Homo sapiens: one gene and its partners. The main gene of each other region encodes a partner of the protein of the gene in region 2 in a complex. Each region holds a gene or a part of one and is shown on either strand. Other genes may lie near its edges.

The links.
Region 1: ECSIT (region 2) and COA1 share a complex: the UniProt entries of both Homo sapiens proteins name them as parts of the mitochondrial complex.
Region 3: ECSIT (region 2) and TMEM126B share a complex: the UniProt entries of both Homo sapiens proteins name them as parts of the mitochondrial complex.

Annotation. Positions count from the first base shown.
Region 1 is NC_000007.14:43,719,429-43,726,542, reverse strand, and holds part of COA1 (cytochrome c oxidase assembly factor 1 homolog), read left to right. Parts: intron 1-7,114. UniProt on the Homo sapiens protein: Component of the MITRAC (mitochondrial translation regulation assembly intermediate of cytochrome c oxidase complex) complex, that regulates cytochrome c oxidase assembly.
Region 2 is NC_000019.10:11,526,125-11,534,051, reverse strand, and holds the start of ECSIT (evolutionarily conserved signaling intermediate in Toll pathway, mitochondrial isoform 1 precursor), read left to right. Parts: upstream 1-4,917; 5' UTR 4,918-4,990; intron 4,991-5,186; exon of another isoform or gene 5,187-5,307; intron 5,308-7,927.
Region 3 is NC_000011.10:85,631,506-85,637,063, forward strand, and holds the end of TMEM126B (complex I assembly factor TMEM126B, mitochondrial), read left to right. Parts: intron 1-181; coding exon 182-303; intron 304-2,580; coding exon 2,581-2,774; coding exon of another isoform or gene 2,775-2,800; exon of another isoform or gene 2,801-4,000; intron 4,001-4,161; coding exon 4,162-4,273; intron 4,274-4,540; coding exon 4,541-4,724; 3' UTR 4,725-5,031; downstream 5,032-5,558. UniProt on the Homo sapiens protein: As part of the MCIA complex, involved in the assembly of the mitochondrial complex I. Participates in constructing the membrane arm of complex I.

The DNA of each region.
Region 1 (7,114 bases), on a different chromosome or scaffold from region 2:
TTTGTCTTTATTGATTTTTAGGAGTTCTTTGTGTAGGGATTTAAGCCATTGACTGTTAGATATGTGGCAGATATTTTCAATCTATTTAGTTAACTTTGTTTTATATTTTTTACTATATTGTTTTACATTTTTGTGTAGTCAGGACTTTGCCTCTAAAAGCCTTCTGGCTAATAGTTTAGGATATTGTTCTTTAATTATAGGAGTTATAGAAACTGACATAGTAGTTCCCAGTTAGTGTGACATCTGAGTCCCTGGTGGTATATTTAGCCTAAGAGTGTTCATTGTTTCAGACATTGTTGCCTCCCTGTCTCTCTGCCTTGAAAAATGTGCCATGATCTGCTTCAACTTTGTTCATTTAACTCTCTATTTTAAACAGACTCCAAGAAGTTATTCTTTTATCCTCTTGTTCATGTTTCATATGCTGCATTAGATTTGTGAGAGCCATATTGGACAGTTGGTCACCAAATAGTAGGTACTTTTTTCATACTAGCAGGCATTTATTTGAAGATTATTTAATGTATGCAGAGGTTGAGTGTAGCTATTGTGTTCTGTATTGTTTGGGGCATGTTGGAAAAAGTAGTTTTATAAAATCCTATTAACATTGTTTTGTATTTTTTTAATTTTGTTGGTTAAAAGGCAGTAGTAGTAATATATATAGTATATATATAATATATATATTTTTTGAGATGGAGTTTCGCTCTTGGTACCCAGGCTGGAGTGCAATGGTGCGATCTCGGCTTACTGCAACCTCCGCCTCCTGGGTTCAAGTGATTCTCCTGCCCCAGCCTCCTGAGTAGCTGAGATTACAGGTGACTGCCACCATGCCCAGCTAATTTTTTTGTTTTATAGTAGAGACGGGGTTTCACCATGCTGGCTAGGTTGGTCTGGAACTCCTGACCTCAGGTGATCCACCGCCTCGGCCTCCTAAAGTGCTGGGGTTATAGGCATGAGCCATTGCGCCCAGCCAGTAGTAAAAGTATTTTTAGAAACTGAGCATTTTGAGAATCTAAGGAAAGTGATATACAATAGCTTCCAGAAAAAAATTGCATCTCTCTGTTTACATATAATGGCCAAGATTTCATTCTTTCCCCTTGGCTTGATTCCAGTTAGAACTGTGTGTTTCTTGTTTCAGTGTTTTGTCTTTTCTTTTTTAAAATTGTGATAGAATATACATAACATAAAATTGGCCATTTTAACTATTTGTAAAGATACAGTTCAGTGCCATTAAGTACTTTAACATTGTTGTGTAACCATAACCACCATCTATCTCCAGAACACTTTTTTCTTTTTCTTTTTTTTTTTTTGAGATGGAGTTTCGTTCATGTTGCCCTGGCTGGAGTGCAGTGGCGTGTTCTCAGCTTACCGCAACCCCCACCTCCCGGGTTCAAGTGATTCTCCTGCCTCAGCCTCCCGAGTAGCTGGGATTACAGGCATGCGCCACCACACCTAGCTAATTTTGTATTTTTAGTACAGACGGGGTTTCTCCATGTTGGTCATGCTGGTCTTGAACTCTCGACCTCAGGTGATCTGCCCACCTCAGCCTCCCAAAGTGCTGGGATTGCAGGCGTGCGCCACTGCGCCCGACCCAGAGCACTTTTATCTCCACACACTGCACCCATTAAATGATAAATCTCCGTTCCTCCCTCTTTCCAGTCCCTGGCAACTACCATTATATTTTCTGTCTATGAATGTGACTATTCTAGGGTCCTCATAAAAGTGGAATCATAAAATATTTGTCCTTTTGAGTCTGGTTTATTTCATTTAGCATGTCTTCAAGGTTAATTCATGTTGTGGCATGTGTTGGAATTTTCATTTTTTTAAAGACTGAATAGTATTACATTGTATTCCATAGAACACATTTTGTTTATCCATTCATTAGTCGATAGATATTTGGGTTGTTGCCACCTTTTGGCTATTGTGAATAGTGCTGCTGTGAACATTGGTATACAAATGTCTGAGTTCCTGCTTTCAATTCTTTTTTTTTTTTTCTTTGAGATGGAGTCTTGCTCTGTCTCCCAGGCTGGAGTGCAGTGGTGTGATCTTGGCTCACTGCAACCTCTGCCTCCTGGTTCAAGTGATTCTCCTGCCTCAGCCTCTCGAGTAGCTGGGACTACAGGCGTGCACCACCACGCAGGCTAATTTTTATATTTTTAGTAGAGACAGGGTTTTGCTATGTTGGCCAGGCTGGTCTTGAACTCCTGACCTCAAGGGATCCGCCCACCTCAGTGTCCCAAAGTGCTGGGATAACAGGTGTGAGCCACCGCGCCTGGCTGTGCTTTCAGTTCTTTTAGGTATACGTATCCAGAAGTGGAATTGCTGGATTGTAGGGTAATTCTGTTGATTTTTTTGAGGAACTGCCCGTATGCTTTAGTGTTTTTGTTATTTGCATAAAAGATGAGATTTAAAGGAATTGTGTAATTTAGGCATGGATTATCACGTTTACCTTTCCAAAGGACTATTTCCTACTTGAAGGGGTGTAGGTGTTTTTGTATTAGGACTTGGAGATCTTTGAGTTTTAAAATTATTGCAATTCAGACTAAATAAAAAGTTTATCATGGATAGTTTTCCAAATTGTAAACATCTCTATGATCCAAGATTTTTTGGTTTTTGTTTTTTGAGACAGGGTCTCACTTTGTCACCCAGGCTGGAGTGCAGTGCCATGAACATGGCTCAGTGCAGCCTTGACCTCATGGGCTCAAGTGATCCTCCTGCTTTAGCCCCTCAAGTAGTTGGGACTACAGGCACATGCCACCACGCCGGGCTAATTTTTATATTTTTTGTTGAGATGGGATTTTGCCATGTTGCCCAGGCTGGGCTCAAACTCCTGAGCTCAAGCGATCCGCCCACCTCAGCCTCCCAAAGTGCTGGGATTACAGGTGTGAGCCACCTTGCCTGGCCTTTTTTTTTTCTTAATGCTTTCTGTGTTTTTAGTCTTTTTGGGGAAATTACCCATCATGACAGACTCTAAAATGGAGGTGAGTTTGCAAACTTGTATAGTTCCAAAAGTCTGTGAATTATTCCGGTATCATACTACTGCTCCATTTGGATGCTTTGGCAATTACCCTGGTGTGCTGTGACTATTGCTGCTTCTGACAGGCAAGTTTACCTCCCTCAATGCAAATATAACCATGTCATTAGTTGAAGATTAGGAGATGACCAGCATTATTCTCTTTTACGACTGTATCATTCTTTTTTCAACTATTCTCCTGTTGTTGGAACTGCAAATTATTGTGGGTACTGCAATCCATTTGAATAGCTGTGACCTCCCAGGGATCACTGGGAAAATGTAGAAAAACAGACAACAGTGTGGCTCAACCAAAACTTAGAAAACTAAGATTGCATGTAGCTGCCAGATCCTGGGAACAGGATGGCTTAAGGGCAGCCCTAAGGGATAAAGGGTAGAGGATTATATGTGTTACACCCTTTCTACCAACCTCTCCCTCCCATTGCAACAGCTTTCATAAGGTCTCAGTTTAATATTTCATTATTACTTTACAACCCATATCATTTTATTAACAGCAAGTATATTATCAGGAGAGATGGGAGGAACTGGTATCTTAATGTGACTTTTGCTCTTAGTTTGGGTCTCTGTCATTTGGACTCTGGTGATCTTTTATCTTGTGGGCTCTTGGTGCCTTAAGACATTTGGCATTTGCAAATGTACTGGAAAGGTCCCCAGATGGACTTAGATGTTCCAGATCTCGTGGAACTTTGATGTCACTTGCATTCATAAGTGATCTAGCAAATACCAAGATTACATAGATGCCAAGCACCCAACTTTCCCTGTTTATGCACCAGCTTTTTGAGGGAGATGAAATGCAATCACATAAAGAATGTACTAGCTGGGCGTGGTGGCTCATGCCTGTAATCCCAGCACTTTGGGAGGCCAAGGCAGTCGGATCACTTGAGATCAGGAGTTCCAGACCAGCCTGGCCAACATGGTGAAACCCCGTCTCTACTAAAAATACAAAAATTAGCTGGGCGTGATGGCATGTGCCTGTAGTCCTAGCTACTCGCAGCTGGTACGAGGCACAAGAATCTCTTGAACCTGGGAGGCAGAGGTTGCAGGGAGCTGAGATTGTGCCATTGCACTCTAGCCTGGGCGATAGAACGAGACTCTCGTTTTGTCGTAGGGAAAAGCATTTCCTAGCCAGGCGTGGTGGCTCATGCCTGTAATCCCAGCACTTTGGGGGGCCAAGGTGGGCAGATCACTTGAGTCCAGGAGTTTGAGACCAGCTTGGGCAAAGTGGCGAAACCCCATCTCTCTACTAAAAATACAAAAGAACTAGCTGGGCATGGTGGTGCACACCTTTGGTTCCAGCTGCTCAGGAGGCTGAGGTGGGAAGATCACCTGAGTCTGGGAGGTCGAGGCTGTAGTGAGTTGCAGTGGCGCCACTGCACTCCAGCCTGAGTGACAGAGTGAGACCCTGTCTCAAAAAAAAAAAAAAAAAGTTACCAGAATCAACGGTGAATGTCCTAACTTTTGGTTATAGATTGTTCCTCTCATTGAAATGTTCTGTGCTAGGGGCAAAGATTGACTTCTGGTGTGCAATGGTAGTCTTTAGAAACACTTCTACATCCATATTTAAGTATGTCAGCATGCAGTATTACATTAGAATCTTTCTAATGTTTTTTGGGCTTCAAGCCTTTGAGCTATAAGTAGCAAAACTTTGAAATTTATGTGAATACTTTCACATTATAACTTACGACTTTTCCCATGGTACTGAGTATTTGTATTCTCTTACCTTGTTTTTTTTTTAAATTACCGTACAGTAAAATAAACTTTTTATATTATAAATTTTAACCCATGTACTGATTTCTATAACCAACACCATAGTCAGGATGCAGAATAGTTGCCTCACCTCAAAAACTCCCTAGTGCTATCTCTTCATGGTTAAATCTTCCCCTTACCCAAATAACCAAAACCAAAAAGTAAATGCCATTTTGTGTTTTTATTGTGGGAAGCAGTTACATTACATCCTTGCTTTTCCTCTTTATTAGGGATTTAATCTAAGCATGTTGGGCTAGAAAGGATAAAGTCAACAGTCTCTTCATTTTTTTTTGAGAAATTCATAAACTTTCTCATGCATTTAGTGTTTAGGAATAAAAACATTTGGCTAGTTATCTCTTCCAACAGGTGGCAGTGTTGTGCTATATAATAGGATTTACTAATAAAGATTGTGGCTTTTTGTCAGCTGGACGATAATTGCTGTACATTTTTTACATCAGAAAATCAAGATGGTTAATTAAGAACTGACATTTAACTATTGAAATTATTTTTTAAAGTCTATTTCAAAATTCATCTTATTCTTGTAATGTTACTAGTAAAGCAGTCTATGGATAAAAGTATTCCTTAATACATTTGTATTTGTTTTCAGTGTTTGCAGAATTATGAATTAACTCTTTCCTTAAGGTTAACCTTTGTAGCGGGAATAACTCCAGTGTTGTGGATGAATCTGTGAGTAATAGAGGCTTATCAGTGTGACTTCAGATGTTTTATGTTTCAGCCTTCTCTATCACATGTAGGAATCCCTTTATAACATCTCTGGTAGTTGGTGGCATTGATCAGTAAATGGAGCAGCCATGGAAGAAAGATACAGGTTCTAATTGCCAGCATCCTGATTGTGAAGCCTTAATGGAGATGTTCAGTGAGAAATGATGAAGAGGAAGCTTGTGAGACATTTGCACTTAGGTGACTCATAGGTTTTCGAAGCTAACCCATCCAAAAAATGGATTCTCTTTTTCTTTATACTTCCAGCAACTTAATGTCTGGCAGTATATACTTCCCTAGGGACTGGGGCTGCCATTCATCCAGAGGCTCCTGAGTAATATCCAGGGTCACTTTAAGACCTCTCAGTGTTCTCTAAATTCTACCTCCTAAATATTTTCAAATATGGCCACTTCATCTTTACCTCTCTCGTTGCACAGAACAATGATTTTTCACCTAGATATACTGCTTCCTAATTGATCTGCCAGGATATATTATTACCCCTATTTTTCACACAGCAGCCATTTTTAAAAAATGTAAAATCTGATCATGTCACTCCCCATATTTTTATTCTTAAACAAGTTTGTGAGAAAGTTTGTAAGTTTCTGAAAAAAAAAGAAAAAGGAAGGGGACCATGTTGATTTTATCCTTTCTAGTCCATCATACTTAGATAAAACGCTTAATAAAGAGGAAAGGCAGGGATGCAACATTACTGCTTCCCACAATAAAAACACAAAATTATACTGAGCATTGGAACTCTTTTTTTCCTTTTTTTTTTTGACAGAGTTTTGCTTTGTTGCCCAGGCTGGAGTGCAGTGGTGCGATCTTGGCTCACTGCAATCTTTCCTCCCGGTTTCAAGCAATTCTCCTGCCTCAGCCTCCCGAGTAGCTGGGATTACAGGTGCCCGCCACCATGCCTGGCTAATTTTTATGATTTTAGTAGAGATGGGGTTTCACCATGTTGGCCAGGCTGGTCTTGAACTCCTGACCTCAAGTGACCCGCCCACCTTGGCCTCCCAAAGTGCTGGGATTACAGGTGTGAGCCACCATGCCTGGCCTTTTACTTTTTATTTTACGTAGAATAAACCCCAAATATTTAACTTGACCCACAACATTCCTCCCTCCTCCCTGTTCTGTGATGTGGCCTCTCTTCTTTCTGTTATAGTCTCATCTCATGCCAGTTTCCCCTTGTTCACTGTGCTCCAGCTTCTCTGGTGTTCTCTTTGCTCCTTGATTGGAGGAGGTGGGGAGAATAGATTCAAGGAAACCTGTTTGTAAGCAAACATACATTTCAGGTAATGAAAACAAGGCTTAATACTATATTGAAATATGTGGGTCAGGGGACATTTTCATAGTAGTCAGGAAGCCATCCATCCCTTTGTCACTTTTCAACTCCTCAGACTGAATCTAGGGATAAATGCACACCTGAGTACAGATTCGGTGTGTGGGGAAAGTTATGTTCTAATAGAAAAGGAAATTTAGAACTCGACAGTGATTACCTGTAATACTGTTAGTTGTGGATAATCCTTTATATTTGGTAGCTCTCACTTAGTTTGACTTTATTTTTGTAATTTCATTCTTCTAGCATTTCATTATTTATTAACTTTGATTTTTCTGTATGACAGC
Region 2 (7,927 bases):
CTGCCTCTACAAAAAAAAAAAAAAGAGAGAGAGCTTTTTAAAAAAGTGCATTTTGGGAGGGCAAGGCAGGAGGATTGCTTGAGCCCAGGAGTTGGAGGCTACAGTGAGCTATGATCATGACACTGCTTATTTTTTTTTTTTTTTTTTTTTTTACAGAATCTCACTCTGTCACCCAGGCCGGAGTACAGTGGCATGATCTCAGCTCACTGCAACTTCCACCTCCCAGGTTCAAGCAATTATCCTGCCTCAGCCTCCTGAGTAGCTGGGATTACAGGTGCCCACCACCATACCGGGCTAATTTTTGTATTTTTAGTAGAGATGGGGTTTCACCATGTTGGCCAGACTGGTCTCGAACTACTGACCTCAGGTAATCTGCTTGCCTTGGCCTCCCAAAGTGCTGGGATTACAGGCATGAGCCACTGTGTCCAGCCATGCCATTGCATTTTAGTTTGGGTGAAAAATAAATAAATAAGAAAAGAAAAGAATGCTTGACGGCCGGGTGTGGTGGCTCACGCCTGTAATCCCAGCACTTTGGGAGGCCAAGGCAGGCGGATCACGAGGTCAGGAGATCGAGACCATCCTGGCCAACATGGTGAAACCCTGTCTCTACTAAAAATACAAAAAATTAGCCGGGCGTGGTGGCGGGCGCCTGTAGTCCCAGCTACTTGGGAGGCTGAGGCAGGAGAATGGCGTCAAGCTGTGGGGCAGAGCTTGCAGTGAGCTGAGATCGTGCCACTGCATTCCAGCCTGGGCGACAGAGCGAGACTCTGTCTCAAAAAAATAAATAAATAAATAAATAAATAAATAAATAAATAAAAGAATGCTTGACAACATGTAACGCAGAGGAGGCTGTGGGAACATTGTTGATGAGTGTGGGCAATTTGTTGATAGTTTCCCAAATGACAAATGTCCTTACCTTCTGAACAAGTATATCCTCTATTTTAGAATATTCCTCAGAAGTACAAGTGTAGGTGTGAAGAATGACATATGTACAGGAACATTTATTGCAGTGGCCTTGTCATAATAAATCACTATAAATCCCATCAACCTGGGACAAGGGAGATAGACAAAGTTGAAGTTAAAACATATAGCATGTTGTTTCAACTAAATGAAGACACTGTAGCGCTGTGGTTAAGAGTGGGGACTCCAGCTGGGTGCAGTGACTCACGCCTGTAATCCCAACACTTTGGGAGGCTGAGGCGGGTGAATCACCTGAGGTCAGGAGTTCAAGACCACCCTGGCCAACATGGTAAAACCCCATCTCTACAAAAACTACAAAAATTAGCTGGGCGTAATGGTGGGAGCCTATAATCCCAGCTACATGGGAGGCTGAGGCAGGGGGTTTCACCATGTTGGTCAGGCTGGTCTTGAACTCCTGACCTTGTGATCTGTCTGCCTCGGCCTCCCAAAGTGCTGGGATTACAGGTGTGAGCCACCGCATCCGGCCCATTGCGTTTCTTTCTTTCTGTCTGTCTGTCTGTCTGTCTGTCTGTCTGTCTATCTATCTATCTATCTATCTATCTATCTATCTATCTTAGAGATGAGGTCTCACTATGATGCCCAGGCTGGACTTGAACTCCTGGGTTCAAGTGATCCTCCTGCCTCAGCCTCCTAAATAGCTAGAACTACAGTGCCACTGTGCCTGGCCCTCATTGCATTTAATTGTCATATCTCCATACATTCCTACAGTCTATAATAGTCCCTGGGTCTTTCAGGACCTTGACACTTTTGAAGAGTGCTGGTCAGTTATTTTGTAGACTGTCTTCGAGTTTGGTTTGTCTTGAATAAACTGAGGTGTTTGCATTACCAGGAAGAATACCAGAGAGGTGATGATGTATCCTTCTAAGTGTGTCATACCAAGGGCTTCATGATATCACCATGACTCATTGCTGGTGATATAAATGTTGGTCCCTTGGTTAAGGTGGTGTCTGCTAGGATCTTTCACTGTGAAGCTACTACTTTTTATAGGGTTCTTTCTGGGACTGTAATGTTAAAGATTCTGCACCAGGGCCTCACATATGGTGTTCTGTGTTAATACATACAGTACATAAAATATGTACATTCTTGGTTTTTTTGTTGTTGTTTGTCTGTTTGTTTTTTTGAGATGGAGTCTTGCTCTGTCGCCCAGGCTGGAGTGCAGTGGTGCAGTCTCGGCTCACTGCAAGCTCCGCCTCCCGGGTTCACACCATTCTCCTGCCTCAGCCTCCCGAGTAGCTGGGACTACAGGCGCCCACCACCACGCCTGGCTAATTTTTTGTATTTTTTTTAGTAGAGACTGGATTTCACCTTGTTAGGCTGGATGGTCTTGATCTCCTGACCTCGTGATCCACCCGCCTCGGCTTCCCAAAGTGGTGGGATTACAGGCGTGAGCCACCGCGCACGGCCTGTACCTACTTGTTTTTAAAAGACTACTGGCCTGGTGTGGTGGCACATGCCTATAATCCCAGCACTTTAGGAGGCCAAGATGGGTGGATCGCAGTACCCCAGGAGTTTGAGACAAGCCTTGGTAACATATTAAGATCCCATCTCTATTTTAAAATAATAATAATAGGCCGGGCATGGTGGCTCATGCCTGTAATCCCAGCATTTTGGGAGGCCGAGGCTGGCAGATCACGGGGTCAGGAGATCAGACCATCCTGGAGAACACAGTGAAACCCCGTCTCTACTAAAAATACAAAAAAATTAGCTGGGCATGGTGGCGGGCGCCTGCAGTCCCAGCAACTGGGGAGGCTGAGGCAGGAGAATGGCGTGAGCCCAGGAGGCGGAGTTTGCAGTGAGCCGAGATCGTGCCACTGCACTCCAGCCTGGGCGACAGAGCAAGACTCTGTCTCAAAAAATAAATAAATAAATAAATAATAATAATGACTGGGCACGGTGGCTAATGCCTGTAATTCTGACACTTTGGGAGGCTGAAGCGGGAGGACTGCTTGAGCCCAGGAGTTGGAGACCAGCCTAGGCAACATGGTGAAACTCCATCTCTACTAAAAATACAAAAATTAGCCGGGTATGGTGGCATGCGCCTGTAGTCCCAGCTACTCGGGAGGCTGAGGCAGGAGAATTGCTTGAATGTGGGAAGCGGAGGTTGCAATTAGCTGAGATTGCACCACTGCACTGCAACCTGGGCGACAGAGCCAGACTCCGTCTCCAAAAATAAAATAAAATAAAATAAAATAAAATATTAAAAGACTAGTTCTGGAAGGATAAATAAGAAAACAAAAGCCATGACCACCTCAAGAGAAGGACACCAATAACTCTGAAGGCCACAGCCAGGTCAGCGACCCCATCATCTTACCCACTCCCCAGCTAAGCAGAGCTGACTCTGCTTGCTTGTAGCTGCGGGAGCCTGGCAGAGGGCAGTAGCGCTCCCAGCCGCTGCCCACGTGCCTGTCAACTTGCCAGAGAGGAGTGCTCCAGCCAAGCAGCTGATTGGCTACAGGTTTTCTCAGATTGCCCAATCACAAGAGTTCTGATGAGGTGGATGTCCTGCGGCTGCGCAGAGTCCTTGAGGCATCCTAAGGGTAGGTTCTTGCATCCTAGTCTCCATGCCAGCTCACTGCGCCACAGAGGCTGAGGGACTGCAGAAATGGGCTTATGAGGGCAGATAGCCTTCCTTCCCGGGGGACACTGTTATTGCCAATAGCCCATTTTATGTGCTTATCCACCTTAGTTATTAACAGCCTAAATCTGGTGCTTTCTGGGGGAGACCAGGAGCCCCCATTACTCAATCTCACCTCGTTTTATCCCATTTCCTCCAAAGACTCCACTCCGACCACACAGAGTCTTTGCTGTTGTTCCCAGTGCCAAAAGCGTTCCCCAGATATCCAGATGGCTCACTCACTTCCTCCGGCCTTTACTCAAAGGACACCTCACTGAGGCCTTCCTATTTATTTATTTACTGAGACGGAGTCTCACTCTGTCGCCCAGGCTGGAGTGCAGTGGTGCTATATCGGCTCGCTGCAACCTCCACCTCCTGGGTTCAAGCAATTCTCGTGCCTCAGCCTCCCGAGTAGCTGGGATCACAGGAGCACGCCACCACGCCCCACTAATTTTTATTTATTTATTTATTTTTTGAGACAGAGTCTCGCTCTGTTGCTGAGGCTGGAGTGCAGTGGTGTTATCCTGGCTCACTGCAACCTCCGTCTCCCGGGTTCAAGCGATTCTCCTGCCTCAACCTCCCGAGAAGCTGGGATTACAGGCACCCACCACCATGCCCTGCTAACTTTGTATTTTTAGTAGAGACGGGGTTTCATCATGTTGGCCAGGCTGGTCTCGAACTCCTGACCTCAGGTGATCCGCAGGCCTCGGCCTCCCAAAGTGTTGGGATTACAGGCGTGAGCCACCGCGCCCTGCCCTATTTATTTATTATTACTATTTTTAGAAACAGGGTCTCACTCTGTTGCCCAGGCTGGAGTGCAGGGGTGCAATCATGGCTCGCTGTAGCCTCGACCTCCAGGGCTCAAGCGATCCTCCCGTTTCAGCCTCCCGAATAGCTGGGACTATGAGCATGCGCCATCATGCCCAGTTAATTTTTAAATTTTTTGTAGATAAGGGGGTCTCGCTATGTTGCCCAGGCTGGTCTCGAACTTCTGGCCTCCCAAAGTGCTGGGATTACAGGCATGAGCCACCGTACCGGCCCCCTTTCACTTTTTGTTTTTTTTTAATTCATTTTCTCATTTCAGCCGCTGGGGCCTGCGACTGGATTCATAGACTATGACTCCCAAGTCCAGCCTCCCGGGCCATTTCAAGGTTCCCAGGTCTGGAGTGCGTCTTGCCTCATTAGAGGCTGGGCCTGGCTCGTTATGAGGCGGGTCCCAGATCCTTCCGCCTTCCTATTGGCCCACCTCGCGTTGTGGGCGGGACCTATTACACCAGCTTTCTTGATTTGCTACCTCCCTGGAGCTCCCTGACCCGGACGCTCTCTGGGCCAATATGGCAGCGCCCAGCAACAAGACAGAGCTGGCCTGGAGTCCGCGGCTGGCCGCGTGAGTAGGTAGGTCGCGCGCGGGTAGGCGAACGCGAACTGCTGGGCTGCAGGCGGGCCCTTCAGGACCCGGCAGCGCGAGAGGGCAGCCCTGGAGGGACCCAGCTGCAGGGCCAGGGCGCCATGACCTTTCGTAGTGGGGGCGGGGACGCGCTGGGAAAGGCCGCCTGTCTTGTGCCAGCCGCCTCACGCCCCCAGTCTCCCATTTTGCAGATGACCTCGCGAGAGGTCACGCCGCAAGTCGGCAACCGGGCAGGATTTGGAATCCGCGTCTGCCTTTTTCCCCCAAGAGACCCAGAATCCTGGCAGCCGGTTTCAAAGCTGTTGTACGTACACCATACCTCGGGGTTCAGATTTATAGGTGTTTTTTTGAAATTGAGGCTTGTTTCCGTTCAGTTGTTACTCGTTAGGCATCTGTCATATACCAGGCACTGTCCTTGGTGCTGGAGACACAGCAATGAGGAAGATAGATAAAAATCTCTCATCTCCTGGGGGAACCAGACTTTGAACAAATTAGAAATAAACGAAACAGGTGATTTCAGATACTGATAAGTTACTAAAAATGCGTTAATGGTGTCGGGAATTTCGCTTGAGCCCAGGAGTTTCGAGACCAGCCTTGGCAACATAGCAAGACCCTGTTCTCTACAAAAAATTATCTGGGCGTAGTGGTGCACGCCTGTAGTCCTAGCTACTCGGGAAGCTGAGGTGGGAGGATTGCTTGAGCCCAGGAGGTTGAGGCTGTAGTGAGCCGTGATTGTGCCACTGCACCCCAGCCTGGGCAACAGAGCAGGACCCTGTCTCCGAAACAAAAATTAATAGGGTGATGAGGGCTTTTAGAATGTGGGGAATGGGAGATGGTCAAAGAAGACCTTTCATTGAAATGACCAGAGACAGCTGTGGGCAGATCTGGAGGAAGAAAGCTCTAGACAGAGAGAAAAGCAAGTACAAAGGTTCTGAGATGGGATAAACTTAGTTTCTTTCAGAAACAGTGTAGCTGAAGCTGCCAGTGGTAGGAGTTGAGTTTAGAGGGGTAGACCCTATCTGATTTTATTTATTTATTTTTATTTTTTAGAGACAGGATCTCACTTGTTCGTCAAGCCTGGAGTGCAGTGGTGCAGTGCACTCCATAGCTCACTGCAGCCTCAAACTCCATGGCTCAAGTGATTCTCCTGCCTCAGCTTTCCCAGTAGCTGGAACTACAGGTGCACACCACCAGGTCCAGCTAATTTTTTAAAATAATTTTTGTAAAGATCGTGTCCTGCTATGTTGTCCAGGCTGGTCTTGAACTCCTGGGCTCAAGCGATCCTCCCCACTTGGACTTCCAAAGCACTAGGATTATAGGCATGAGCCACTGCTCCCTGGCTATTTATTTATTTTTAGAGACAGGATCTCAGTATGTTGCCCAGGCTAGAGTGCAGTGGCTATTCACAAGTGCAGTCATGGTTCACTGCAACCTCTAACTACTGACCTTAAAGGATCCTCCAGCCTCAGTCTCCTGAGTACCTGAGATGACAGGCATTCACCACCATGCCTGGATAATTCTTAATTTTTTTGTAGAGATGGGGTCTCTCTATGTTGCCCAGGCTGGTCTTGAATCCCTGGGCTCAAGTGATCCTCCTACCTTGGTCTCCCAAAGTGTTGGGATTACAGGCATGAGCCAGTGTGCCCAGTCTCTGATTTTAAGTGTGATATGCCGTTAGCGATTTTAGGCAGAAATCACTAATTTTAGTTGATTTATTTATTTATTTAGCGATGGAATCTCGCTCTGTCGCCCAGACTGGGGTGCAGTGGCACAATCTTGGCTCATTGCAACCTCCACCTCCCAGGTTCAAGTGATTCTCCTGCCTCAGGCTCCCGAATAGCTGGGATTACAGGTGCCTGCCACCACACCTGGCTAATTTTTGTATTTTTAGTACAGACGGGCTTTCACCATCTCGGCCAGGCTGGTCTTGAACTGACCTTGTGATCCACCTGCTTCAGCCTCCCAAAGTGCTGGGATTACAGGCGTGAGCCACAGCGCCTGGCCTAATTTTAGTTTAAAAGCTCCCTCTGGCTGGGTGTGGTGGCTCACACCTGTAATCCTAGCACTTTGGGAGGCCAAGATGGGTGGATTGCTTGAACTCAGGAGTTCGAGACCACCCTGAGCAACATGATGAAACCCCATCTCTACTAAAATACAAAAAATTAGCTGGGTGTGGTGGCACACACCTGTAGTCCCAGCTACTCGGGAGGCTGAGGCATGAGAACCAACTTGAACTGGGGAGGCGGAGGTTGCAGTGAGCCGAGATGCGCCATTGCACTCCAGCCTGGGGAACAGAGTGAGACTCTGTCTCCAAAAAAAAAAAAAAAAAGCTCCCTCTGGCCATAGTGGGGAGAACTGACTGGAGGCAGGAAGGGCAAAAGTGGGAGGCTTGATAGGTATCCAAGTCATAGATTGAGGTGGTGGCTTCAGATAGAAAGAGATGCATTTGGGATGGATTTGGAAGTAGTCACCTAGACTAGTTGATGGATTGAATAGGAGAGTGAGGGACATAGTGGACTCAGAAATGTCTCCTAGGTTTGTAGCCTGAATGGCCAGTAGTAGTGGTGCGATTGGATAGGATGGAGAGGATCAAGTTTAAGCAAGGATATCAGTTTGGAGCAAATTATGTTTGAGATGGCTGGGTATATGCCAAAGTGGCAGTTAGGTATAAAGGCTGGGGCCCAGGGATTGAGGTGAACATTGGGGAGCCATCAGCACACAGATCACCACTTCTCAAACTTTAATGCTCACAGGAGATACCAGGGACTCGCTAAAATGCAGATTTGGGCCTGGCGCAGTGGCTCATGCCTGTAATCCCAGCACTTTGGGAGGCCAAGGCAGGTGGATCACAAGGTCAGGAGTTCAAGACCAGTCTGGACAAGATGGTGAAACCCTGTCTGTACTAAGAACGCAAAAATTAGCCA
Region 3 (5,558 bases), on a different chromosome or scaffold from region 2:
GATAATAAGAGCTCAGTAAATGTTGATTGAATTACTAACAAAGTATGTGAAAGCAGACGACACAGTACCTGGCACACTACTAAACTGTAAATGTTTTCAAATCTGAATCTGTAGAATTCTGTAAGGTTTTATGTAATATGAATATCATTAGCTATTATGGCTCTGGAATTTTTTTTTCCAGGTTTTCAAGATGGCAGCATCTATGCATGGTCAGCCCAGTCCTTCTCTAGAAGATGCAAAACTCAGAAGACCAATGGTCATAGAAATCATAGAAAAAAATTTTGACTATCTTAGAAAAGAAATGTAAGAGAAATGCCCAGGCTGAAAATCAGTCATTTTATTTGCAAGTCTTTTGTATTGCCATTGTTTCTAAGATCCTATTCTTTCTTACCTTTTCTGTTATCTAAGATCCTATTCTTTGAGTTGGCTATGAAGAACACATCTTTAAAAAAAAGAATGGGGGAAACAAGAACAGATGAAAATGGTGGTTTGTTGGAATATTTCGGATTGTGGATAATTTCTTTTGTTTCTTAAAAAGTATCCAAAAGTATTGCTAAAACTTTTGTGCAGTAAATGTATTTTAATTAAAAGTAATTAGGAGAAAACCATTGAGGGGGGTACTTATATTTAATTGGTGAGTAATTATAATCAGTTTAGGATTGATTATCTCAGCCACAGTACTTAGTACAGCAAAAGGGAATACAGATTTCATGGTATAAATATAGTCTCACATTAACATATTGACTTTTTTTTTTGAGATAAGAGTCTCACTCTGTCACCCAGGCTGGAGTGCAGTGGCACAATCTCGGCTCACTGCAATCTCCAGCTCCCAGGTTCAAGTGATTCTCCTGCCTCAGCCTCCCAAGTAGCTGGGATTACAGGCGTGTACCACCACAACCAGCTAATTTTTGTATTTTTAGTAGAGATGGTTTAACCATGTTGGCCAGACTGGCCATTTTGACTTTTAAATGAACAAAGTTCAAGAAAAAAATCAAAGGACAGTTGATGTTATTTCCTGGATTTACATATGGGTCTTAATAAGAAAACTAAATCAGATTTTTTTGGATGAAGTTTTATAAATCTTGGACAAATTATTTTATTTTATTTTATTTTATTTCATTTTCTGTTTTATGGCTTTATTGAAGTATAATTTATATATCTTGACATTCATCCATTTAAAGTGTACAGTTATATGAGTTTTAGCAAATTTATACAGTTATGTAACCATCACCACAATTAAAATTTGGAATACTTCCAACATCCCCAAAAAGTTCCCTCATTCCCTTTTATTTTTTTTTATTTTATTATTATTATACTTTAAGTTTTAGGGTACATGTGCACAATGTGCAGGTTAGTTACATATGTATACATGTGCCATGCTGGTGTGCTGCACCCATTAACTCATCATTTAGCATTAGGTAGATCTCCTAAAGCTATCCCTCCCCTCTCCTCCCACCCCACAACAGTCCCCAGAGTGTGATGTTCCCCTTCCTGTGTCCATGTGTTCTCATTGTTCATTTCCCACCTATGAGTGAGAATATGCGGTGTTTGGTTTTTTGTTCTTGCAATAGTTTACTGAGAATGATGATTTCCAACTTCATCCATGTCCCTACAAAGGACATGAACTCATCATTTTTTATGGCTGCATAGTATTCCATGGTGTATATGTGCCACATTTTCTTAATCCAGTCTATCATTGCTGGACATTTGGGTTGGTTCCAAGTCTTTGCTATTGTGAATAGTGCCACAATAAACATACGTGTGCATGTGTCTTTATAGCAGCATGATTTATAGTCCTTTGGGTATATACCCAGTAATGGGATGGCTGGGTCAAATGGTATTTCTAGTTCTAGATCCCTGAGGAATCGTGACACTGACTTCCACAATGGTTGAACTAGTTTACAGTCCCACCAACAGTGTAAAAGTGTTCCTATTTCTCCACATCCTCTCCAGCACCTGTTGTTTCCTGACTTTTTAATGATTGCCATTCTAATTCATGTGAGATGGTATCTCATTGTGGTTTTGATTTGCATTTCTCTGATGGCCAGTGATGGTGAGCATTTTTTCATGTGTTTTTTGGCTGCATAAATGTCTTCTTTTGAGAAGTGTCTGTTCAGGACAAATTATTTTAAATGTATCTGGGACTAATGAAGAAATAGAAGGCCTAACCAAATGTAAACAGCTTTTTTTTAGATGAACTTAAGCAAAGTAAATCTTTTAGTTGCAGGAAAGGTATTCTTGGATTTGGGTAGCTCATAAAATTTGGCTGCATTGGAACATATTTATATTTATTTGTGGCCAAAATTATTTAAAAGAGCTCTATTTTAGAATTACTGTAAATATTCTTAGAAAGAGAATCATGTCCTCTCATTAGAATACAAGTTCTATGAGGGGTGGGAAATTTCTTTTTTTCTTTTGCTTTGTTTACTGTCCTATCTTAAGCACTTAGAAAATACTTTTCACATATAGTAAGTGCTCAAGAAATATTTGATATTGATATGCAATAACAACTTTTCAGGAGAGGCTGTATCCATTAAGTTCAATGGTATAGTGAACTGAATTTTTCTTTTTTTCTATTAGGACACAAAATATATATCAAATGGCGACATTTGGAACAACAGCTGGTTTCTCTGGAATATTCTCAAACTTCCTGTTCAGACGCTGCTTCAAGGTTAAACATGATGCTTTGAAGACATATGCATCATTGGCTACACTTCCATTTTTGTCTACTGTTGTTACTGACAAGCTTTTTGTAATTGATGCTTTGTATTCAGGTGAATTTAAATTCACTAATGTATAACGTAGTTATGTCTAAGTAAAGTTACTTATTAACATATACTGTTGCTACTGCTAATAATAATTCTTTACATTTATATATTGCTATACAGTTTACAAAGTCCATATACCTTGTCATATTTAATCCCTGCAACAATCCTCCTAATCAGGTAAACTGTATTTTTTTATTTCTGTAGATAAGCAACCCAAACTGAGGCATGTTCAAGTACGCTAATAAGCAACATACTGGGAAAAGAATTGGCTGTGGCATACAACGCACATCATTTCAGTATGCTACCTCCTGCCACTTAAGTTTTGTGACATTCAGTAAGGCATTTCATCTCTGAGCCTCCGTTGTCTTATCTATAAGTTAGGACTAATAGTACTTACCTCACAGGATTGTTGTGAGAATTAAAAGATACTGTAGGTTAAATGACTACCACAATATCTGTCATATTATGGGCTTTTAATGTTATTTCCTGCCCCTCACCTTACCTTGAGTTTCACAACTAGTAATTGATAGAGCATCTATCCCTTGTTCATTCTTCAGGTTCCTGCTTAAGTATCTTTTCCCCAGGGAGACCTCTGATTGCCTCATTGTACACTAGGTGTCTGGATACATTCTCTATATAGTTTATCTTCAAAGTATTGTGTACACTGATAATTATCTATTTAAATATTTATCTCGTGTCTTTCATCTCTGTAAACTGGCCAGAAGGTCAGAGATCAGGTCTCTTTTATGTACCACCGTATTCCTAGCTCCTAGCACGTTCCTGATATATAGTAGATAATAAAAATGTATTAACCTAGAATCCAGGTCTGGTTTGCTAGTTTAGTATTGTCATTATAAAATTGTTTCTGGCTGGGCACGGTGGCTCATGCCTATAATCCCAACACTTTGGGAGGCCAAGACAGGCAGATCACTTGAGGTCAGGAGTTCGAGACCAGCCTGGCCAACACAGTCTCTACTAAAAATAGAAAAACAGTTGAGCATGGTGGTGCAAGCTTATAATCCCAGCTACTTGGGAGGCTGAGGCATGAGAATTGCTTGAACCCTGGAGGCAGAGGTTGCAGTGAGCCGAGATCGTGCCACTGTACTCTAGCCTGGGCAACAGAGTGAGACTCCGTCTCCAAAAAATAAAATAAAATTGCTTCTACAACAACCACATACGTTAGAGGTAATTCTCTATGTGATAAAGTATAATAAAAACTTTTTAAAATGTGCTGCATTTGGCCTGTTATATGCCACAGAGTTTGAATTTCTAATATTCTTTCTATGGTTTAGTTGTGGTTGAGGATAGTGCAGATAACTACTCTGTGAGGTACAACACTGTCTTAATAGCTCTTGAGTTTTAAAGGAAAACCAAATTTACTTTTGTTTTCCAGATAATATAAGCAAGGAAAACTGTGTTTTCAGAAGCTCACTGATTGGCATAGTTTGTGGTGTTTTCTATCCCAGTTCTTTGGCTTTTACTAAAAATGGACGCCTGGCAACCAAGTAAGTTCTTCCTTTTCCTTCTTTTTTCTTTTCTTTTCTTTTCTTTTTTTTTTTTTTTTTTAGGTTAATAAACTCTCTTTCTTCTTTAGCTGTCTATGATATATTTGAATCAAAATGTGGTAGTTTGGTATTTCAGATAGCTAACTTTTAACTTTTTTGCTCTCTACATTATAGATCTAGAAAGGCAATTATCAATTTAGGAGAAGTCAACAAACTTCTAATAGCATTCATATCCAGGAGAGGTGATTAACTCTTTTTTCTTTTTAGGTATCATACCGTTCCACTGCCACCAAAAGGAAGGGTTTTAATCCATTGGATGACGCTTTGTCAAACACAAATGAAATTAATGGCGATTCCTCTAGTCTTTCAGATTATGTTTGGAATATTAAATGGTCTATACCATTATGCAGTATTTGAAGAGACACTTGAGAAAACTATACATGAAGAGTAACCAAAAAAATGAATGGTTGCTAACTTAGCAAAATGAAGTTTCTATAAAGAGGACTCAGGCATTGCTGAAAGAGTTAAAAGTAACTGTGAACAAATAATTTGTTCTGTGCCTTTTGCCTGGTATATAGCAAATACTCAAAAAGTATTCAATAATTCAATCAATAAATATAAGTTTCATCTTACACGTAAGATACAGGTCTTATCTCCTGATGGTGTGTCCATTTTGCCTGGTATATAACAGATAATAAATATCCAGTGTCAATAAATGTAACAATAAAAGTTTCATCTTTCCTCTTTGTATGTGGAAATGGGTTTGGGCTTTAAGGTCTCATCTGTGCAGTTATATATTCATTCATTCATCAAACATTTATTGAGCTATTTCTCAGGCACTGTGTTAAATATAATAAGAAACATTCTGGCTGGGCATGGTGGCTCTCGCCTGTAATCCCAGCACTTTGGGAGGCCAGGGAAGGCGGATCACCTGAGGTTAGGAGTTTGAGACCAGCCTGGCCAACATGGCAAAACCTCGTCTCTACTAAAAGTACAAAAGAATTGGCTGGGCATGATGGTGTATGCCTGTAATCCCAGTTACTTGGGAGGCTGAGGCAGGAGAATCGCTTGAACCCAGGAGGCGGAGGTTGCAGTAAGCTGAGATCTCACCACTGTGCTCCAGCCTGGGCAACAGAGCAGAACTCCATATCAAAAAAAAAAAAAAGAAAGAAAACAAACATTCCTTACCTAGAAGGAACTCAATTGAGGAGGAGTAAGTGTGAACACATACTATGAGAGGATTTGAGAGGTATACACATAATTCTGTAAGGGCACTGAGAGTATG